Linked DNA regions of Homo sapiens. The protein of the gene in region 2 interacts with the protein of the main gene of each other region in a biochemical or structural test. Each region holds a gene or a part of one and is shown on either strand. Other genes may lie near its edges.

The links.
Region 1: the proteins of STX6 (region 2) and SNAP23 form a complex in vitro, tested with the Homo sapiens proteins (one study listed by BioGRID).

Annotation. Positions count from the first base shown.
Region 1 is NC_000015.10:42,509,042-42,512,697, reverse strand, and holds part of SNAP23 (synaptosomal-associated protein 23), read right to left. Parts: intron 866-3,656; 5' UTR 852-865; coding exon 795-851; intron 1-794. UniProt on the Homo sapiens protein: Essential component of the high affinity receptor for the general membrane fusion machinery and an important regulator of transport vesicle docking and fusion.
Region 2 is NC_000001.11:180,984,722-180,988,377, forward strand, and holds part of STX6 (syntaxin-6), read right to left. Parts: intron 3,625-3,656; coding exon 3,518-3,624; intron 51-3,517; coding exon 1-50. UniProt on the Homo sapiens protein: SNARE promoting movement of transport vesicles to target membranes. Targets endosomes to the trans-Golgi network, and may therefore function in retrograde trafficking.

The sequences.
Region 1 (3,656 bases), on a different chromosome or scaffold from region 2:
TTCCCTTTAAAACAAAACAATGGCCGGGTGTGGTGGTTCAAGCCTATAATCCCAGCACTTTGGGAGGCTGAGGTGGGCGGATCACGAGGTCAGAAGTTTGAGACCAGCCTGCCCAACAAGGTGAAACCCCATCTCTACTAAAAATACAAAAATTAGCTGGGCGTGGTGGCACACACCTATAATCCCAGCTACTCAGGAGGCTGAGGCAGGAGAATCGCTTGAACACAGGAGGCAGAGGTTGCAATAAGCCGAGATCGCATCACTATACTCCAGCCTGGGCAATAGAGTGAGACTCCGTCTCAAAAAAAAAAAAAAAAAAAAAAGTAAGTTGATCACTACATTTTTAGTTATTTTCAGGCGCTCCTTAAGAGAAAATGTGTAAGGACTTCCAGTGTGATGTTGAAAGAAAAAGTTTTTTTAAAAAAGAGAATATTTGGATGGTGAAGTTCATGGGAATAAAAATTTAATGTAGGTAGAAATCTAAGTAAATTACAGATATTAGGAAATTGTTAAATAGAAGTCTAGCATTTCTCAAATACATAGTAGAGTATCTTTGTTACACTTAAGTAATATTAATAATTACCTAAAAAATAAAAATCATACAAATTGTTTTCACTTTAGTTTTCTGGTGAGTTAAAAAGAAAATAAAAACCAGCAATGGCACTAAGGAGCAAATGTGTTCTTTGATATTAATGGACTAGGAAGAGGCCAAAATGTCCCTAAGAAGGCTCTCTCACTCCTCCAATATGAAAACTGAAATAGAATTATTTACTTATTTTAGGTAAAACATTTACCTCATCAGTAATCTGGTGAGCTCTCTGTTGAATTTCTTCTGATGACAGATTATCCATGATGAATCAAAACTCTATTAGGCACAGAAATGGAAATGTGGATATTGTATAAGAATAAGGATATATAAAAGTTTGTGTGAGCAAAAAGTGTAGATTTATGGAATTTAGGAACTTATCAGGAAAACAGGATAAAAGAACCTCTTTCTATATCTATTAGTCTACCACAAGTAAAGAAATCAAGACCGAGAGAGGCTAAATGAATGTTTAATAAGAGTGCCAAGGGTGAACCTAAAATACAGGTTTTAGGACTTCTAGGGAAGTACTCTTTCCAACAGGAAAGTGGATCCTCTACTTAGAGAAGCAAGGCATTACTGGAAGACAAGCATTAAAAGACTATTAAAGTGAATTTTTGGTTGTTCAATGTTCTTCATGTGTTGTCTGAACATGGAAAAGCAGTAGGTGAAGAAAAGTCCAATTTAGTAAAGTAACAAAATTTGAAGTTATGTGCCTGAAGAACACAGGAAACATTTCTAAATATGCCAGTTGTCCAGGACACTCACTGGAGAAAATACTTTCACTCTTAACAAGAAAAGGGAAATGCTGGTACAAACAGCTCGGAAAAGACTAAGGTTTTTATTATGCATTAGACTCTTCCCCTCCAGTGGCTTATATTGTTTTGTTGTTTTACTGGAGTCCCTAAGAAACCAAACAATTATTCTCCTATACACAGTAACTCAGAAGGAGATCTCATAGACATCCAAGCTAAAAAATAAAACATTTCGTAGGTGTTACTCAGCACGGCTGTTATCTAATTCCTCTTTGAGAAGTCATGTGGAGTAATAACAAGCATTGTGCAACGGATCTAGGTTCTTTGTTACATTTGCTAGCTTTGTATGAATTTTCTCAAAACTCATTTATCAAAACTCACGGTCAATGACACAGATAAACTCTGGTTCTTATTACAGATTTGACCCCAGGAATCTGGCAATGTCTGGAGTTGCTTGATTGTCACAACTTGGGCCAGGTGATGGGGCTGGTTAATGGCATCTAGTAGGTAGAGGCAGGGAAACTGCTTAACATCCTACAACACTCTTCAGGAAAGCCCTCCAGCAAAGAATAATCTGACCCAAAATGTCAATTTGAGGTGAGAAACCTTGCCATGGATATACTCTTTGATAAGCAGAAAACTTAATTCCCCAAGAATGTACTGGACTGAATTCTTGGAAGGCAGAGATTTTATCTTTGTATCTCTAACACCTAATAGGATCTGATGGTAGATACTCCAAAAATAGCTGAATGAACAAATAAGTAGAAAAACAGGGTGTACTCTCAAAGTATTTACATGGCTCTTAGAAACAAAGCTGCATGTAACAGTAGCACAAAGCTCGCAAAGAATCACTAGAGCCACAAACCAAAAACTGCTATTGCAAGTGTATGATATGATCACATATAAATCTTTTCAGTCATTTTTGGCTGGGTGTGGTAGCTCATGACTGGAATCCTAGCACTTTGGGAGGCTGAGGTGAGTGGATGGCTTGAGCTCAGGAGTTGGAGTTCAGCCTGGGCAACATGGCAAAACCCCATCTCTACCAAATATACAAAAATTAGCCAGGCATGGTGGCGCACACCTGTAGTCCCAGCTACCGGGGAGGTTGGGGTGGGCGGATTGCTTGAGTCCAGGAGGTTGAGGCTGAAGTAAGTCAAGATCATGGCACTGCACTCCAGCCTGGGTGACAGAGCAAGACCCTATCTCAAAAAACAAACAAACAAAAAAATTTAAATCTTTTCAGTTGTTTTTAATTGAACCACTACTATCATGTTATTTTTTTTATTTTTTTGAGATGGAGTCTCACTCTGTTGCCCAGGCTGGAGTGCAGTGGTGTAACCCTGACTCACTGCACCTTCTGCCTCCTGGGTTCAAGCAATTCTCCTGCCTCAGCCTCCCAAGGAGCTGGGATTACAGGCATGCACCACCACGCCCCACTAATTTCTGTATTTTTAGTAGAGATGGGGTTTCACCATGTTGGCCAGGCTGATCTCGAACTCCAGACCTCAGGTGATCTATCCACCTCAGCCTCCCAAAGTGCCCAGATTGCAGGCCTGAGCCACCGTGCCTGGCCTTGTTTATAATTCTACTGTCATAGCTGTTTTATGGTTTAAGATTTTGAGGGCCAGGCGCAGTGGCTCACGCCTGTAATCCCAATACTTTGGGAGGCCGAGGCGGATGGATCACGGGGTTAGGAGATCGAGGCCAGCTTGATCGACATGGTGAAACCCCGTTTCTACTAAAAATACAAAAATTAGCCGGGAGTGGTGGTGAGCGCCTGTAATCCCAGCTACTCGGGAGGCTGAGGCAGGAGAATTGCTTGAACCTGGGAGGCAGAGGTTGCAGTGAGCCAAGACTGTGCCACTGCACTCCAGCCTGGGTGACAGAGCGAGACTCCATCTCAAAAAAAAAAAAAAAAAGATTTTGAGCCTTGATTAAAGCCATTAGTGCTCATGAAAAAAAGCATTTTAAGTTCCAAATTTAAGTTTCTATCTTGCTTGCCATAGACTGTGCTTCAGGCAAAAAGTTTCCACACTAAGATATAATCAAGATATAAAGATATCATTCATTAGATACAAGCATAAAAGGAACCAGGTATTTTATTAATTTGCTAATTGTTTGAGTCTTAAGCTTTATCATACATACACATGTCCATGCTACTGTTCCTCTTTTGTCACTCTTTCCTATTTGCAACTACAAAAAGTAAATGGAGATTATTTTTTGTACCCTCTCACCTCCACACTTTTGCACACCTTTCCTTTCTATAATACCCCACATCTGCCCAGGTAGCCTCATGCTTTTCCATCACTTCCTAAAGC
Region 2 (3,656 bases):
CCAGCCGGGACTGAGTGCTCTCCAATTCGTGAGAGAAATCTTCCAACATACTAGAGAGAAGCAGACACAGAAGGTCGCTGGTAAGCACAAAGCCTTGGCAGTGCACTTGCACTGGGTTAAAAGGACCAGGCCTCCATTTTAGCAAACAAAATAGGCAACACTGGGTTTCAGGACCTCACTCTGTTATCCAAAATCCTTGGGACAAGATAGGATTTTGATTTTGGAATTCTCAGGATTAAAAAAAGCCTAAATTACATATCCTTTGTATTAGTCGACACCACTAGGAGGACACCACCAGGAGGGTCTGGGGCAGTCCCCGTAATCAGATACTTAATATTTCTGCAGAGAAAACTATGAGGAATCACAGTTGGAGTCAGTTCAGGTAAGGTTTTTCTGTAACATGAGCTTGCGGCAAATTTAAAGAAAAAAAAAACAACGAGATTTCTTTAGAGCTTCCTAGATTTCAGAACTGCAAGACTATAGACCTGTCTATACAATAACACAAACTCAGTGGCAGTGCAATGTGGTAGAAACAATGCTATCTGAGGCAGACAACCAGGCTTTGCCACTTGTTTACATTGCTACCTTCGACAACATACTCTATAACTCTTTGGGACTGTTTCCTCACCTGTAAAATAGGGCAATCCTATCAGCTCAACTTCCCTCACAGGGCTCTTGTGAGAACCAGGTAATAAACAAAAGCACTTTATGTCAATATGAGTTAAGGAATGTACTTTAATAAAATAACCTCCTATAAGGCACTACGTGCTTTATTATAAACCCAGAAGGCCTCAGGACTAACATCCCTGATGGGGTGTGTGACAGTGTGTCTGTGCATGCACACGCGCATTTCCCCATCTGTCCTCACAGAGAAACCAGTATTTCCCACTAGGAAAACTGACTCCAGCAGGCTTACACTATTTGCTGTCCAATGTGCAGCTGGGAAAGAAAACCCCAAAATACTATTTCAGCAGTGCCTATTTCATAAGTCACTAAATATTCCAGACTTTTCAACTTTTGATTAGTAAATGATTATTCTGAGGCTAGAATGTAATATGCCAATTAGTACTAACAGTCTTACTAAAAAGGCTGTATTAACTCTGACAGCATCAATGGCAGTTAGAAACTCCTGGTCTTGATCTGTGCCCACAATAGACACCTGACAGCCTTGCAGGATTCAGGGCAACCAACTCTTCATTAAATCAACTGTTACATATATGTTGACAACTAAAATAAGTCTTTGTCCCTTACCTAAATTTTCAAATTAAAAAATATTTAACTCATTTTAGATCCTGGCAGCATCTTGGCGCTGCAGCTGGCAGGCCTATCCAGGCAGGGCCAAACTCTAAAAAGCAAGAGCTACCTTTCTGCGCTAGGTATGACTTTTCATACTGAAGACAAAACAGGCACATCATCAGGCACATCATCCGACCTTCAGTCCATGGACACTCACCAACCAAGTTGCTAGCCCAAATCTATCTCAGTACCATCCAACAAAAATATGAGTCACATATGCCATTTTACATTTTCTAGTAGCCATGTTTGTAAAAATTTCAAAAGAAACAGGTGAAATTAATTCTGTTGTATTTAGTTTAATATAGCCAAAATACTGTAATTTCAACATGTAATATAAAAATTATTAATAAGCTATTTTATATTTTTCTATATGAAGTCTTCAAAATCCAGTAAGCATTTTACCTCTGGAGCACATCTCAATTCAGACTGGCCACATAACACTTACTCAACAGCCACATGTGGCTAGTAGCTATTATACTGGATGGCACAGGTCTAAGTCCAAATCCCATGCTTTTTCCCATTTATCTGTTATTTCTATTTTTTTAGAGACAGGGTCTCCTCTGTCACCCAGGTTGGAGTACAGTGGTGCCATCATAGCTCACTGCAGCCTCAAACACCTGGGCTCAAACAATCCTCCCACCTCAGCCTCCTTCCCTAGTACTTGGGACTACAGGTGTGAACCACCATGCCCAGCGGTTTCATGCCCTTAAAAACAAACCCCTTTACTATTGTTCTAGTGAGCTGTGGAGAGGGAGTGGAGGTAGGGGTGTGTCAATGCACCATCTTTAACTGGAAGTCCCTCTGACTCTATTACCCACTGCCCAGCCAGGCTGCCTCATCAACAGAGAAGCTCAGGCCATTAGTCCTTTCCCCTCCTCAAACTGAACTTTAGGGTCAGGACCCATTTTAGATAGACATGAAACAGATTCTGGCTACTCCAGCTTCCTACCTGGTCTCCCTACCTGACTCCACTGCAGCACATCATCTAAATCACACCTGATCACACCATCACTCCTCACCTCACCTCCACTGGTCTCTCATTATGCTGAGAATAAGTAGTCGTACCTCCTTACCATGCTGACAAGGCCTTCCCTGGTTTGTTCTCTGCCTCCAGACACATGGAACCTCTCTGCTCCATGCACGTGTGCACCTCTCCATCTTCACAGGTGCATTTTCTTCCTCCTGGTCTACACACCCCACACCACCTGCCTCCACACCAACTCTCACCTCACCTGGCTAGCATCCACACATCCTTCAGATTTCAGTTAAACCCCTCTTCCTCAGGGACCTTGGGCTAAGTCAGGGCTCTCCAGGCAGCATGCACTGGCCCCATCACAGGGGCCCTCCCACTTCACTGCCATCACCTAATGACCCCTCGCCACTTACCCAATATCCGTTCTACCCTGCAAGCGGCAAACTCTTTGGCAGAGATGGGTTGTCTTGTCTGCTCTGTTCCCTTCTATATCCCTTGGCTTCCAGAAGGCCCGGTGTAGAACACGGGCCCACTAAGAATTCATAATCAATCAATGTGTCATGATAAACGTAATATCGAGACAGGAAAGTTTCTGAAATATCCTGGTGGACTGTTTTTTCATTTTTCTCTTTCAAAAGATTTACAAAATGATGTGGCAGCATTTAAGAATGCAGTTTTTGCCATCGAACTTCTGGGTGCAAAAGGGATTGTTCATAAGGAAAAACAAACTGAGGTTATGTTTTGTTTTTATTTATTTTTCTGAGAGGAAAGAGTTTTTATTAACTGGCGTTAAATTTGTAAGTTTTTTTTAAAAAAAAAAAACAAAGTTACAATAATTTAAGATTCAAAGCAAAACGTGTCTGTTCAATATAGCAGGAGAGTCATGGGATGATAAAGTCAGCTCATGTCCTATCCTCTCTGGAACAAAAATTCCCACAGGTTACAGAGGCTTCTCTGTTTCATATTCCCATTCATAACTATACTTCGAGTATCTGCTCAGAGACATCTGTGTCTGTTTTTGGAGGTGTTTAAAAATAATAACAACTTCACCTAAAGCCTGTAGTAAAATTTACGAAGTAGAATTGCTTCTTTTGGGGAGGCTAATCTGTAAAACAGAATAAAAATGCAGCTATGAATAAAATAGCTTTTGATTTTACCAGCCACGTAGCTGCCAGGCTTTTTAGGGGTGTCATAGGATGGCTCTGCCCCTCAATTTCACTGAAGCGAGAGGGGTGTCTCAATACTCACACTGCCTGTTCCTCCAGCTCCCCTCCGATGCGCTGGGACATGTTCTTCAGCACCCCGATGCTGCCAGAGACCAGCTCCAACTGCTCATCCTGCTGTTCCACGATCAACTGGTGCCAGAGAAATGGGAAATAAGCAATTA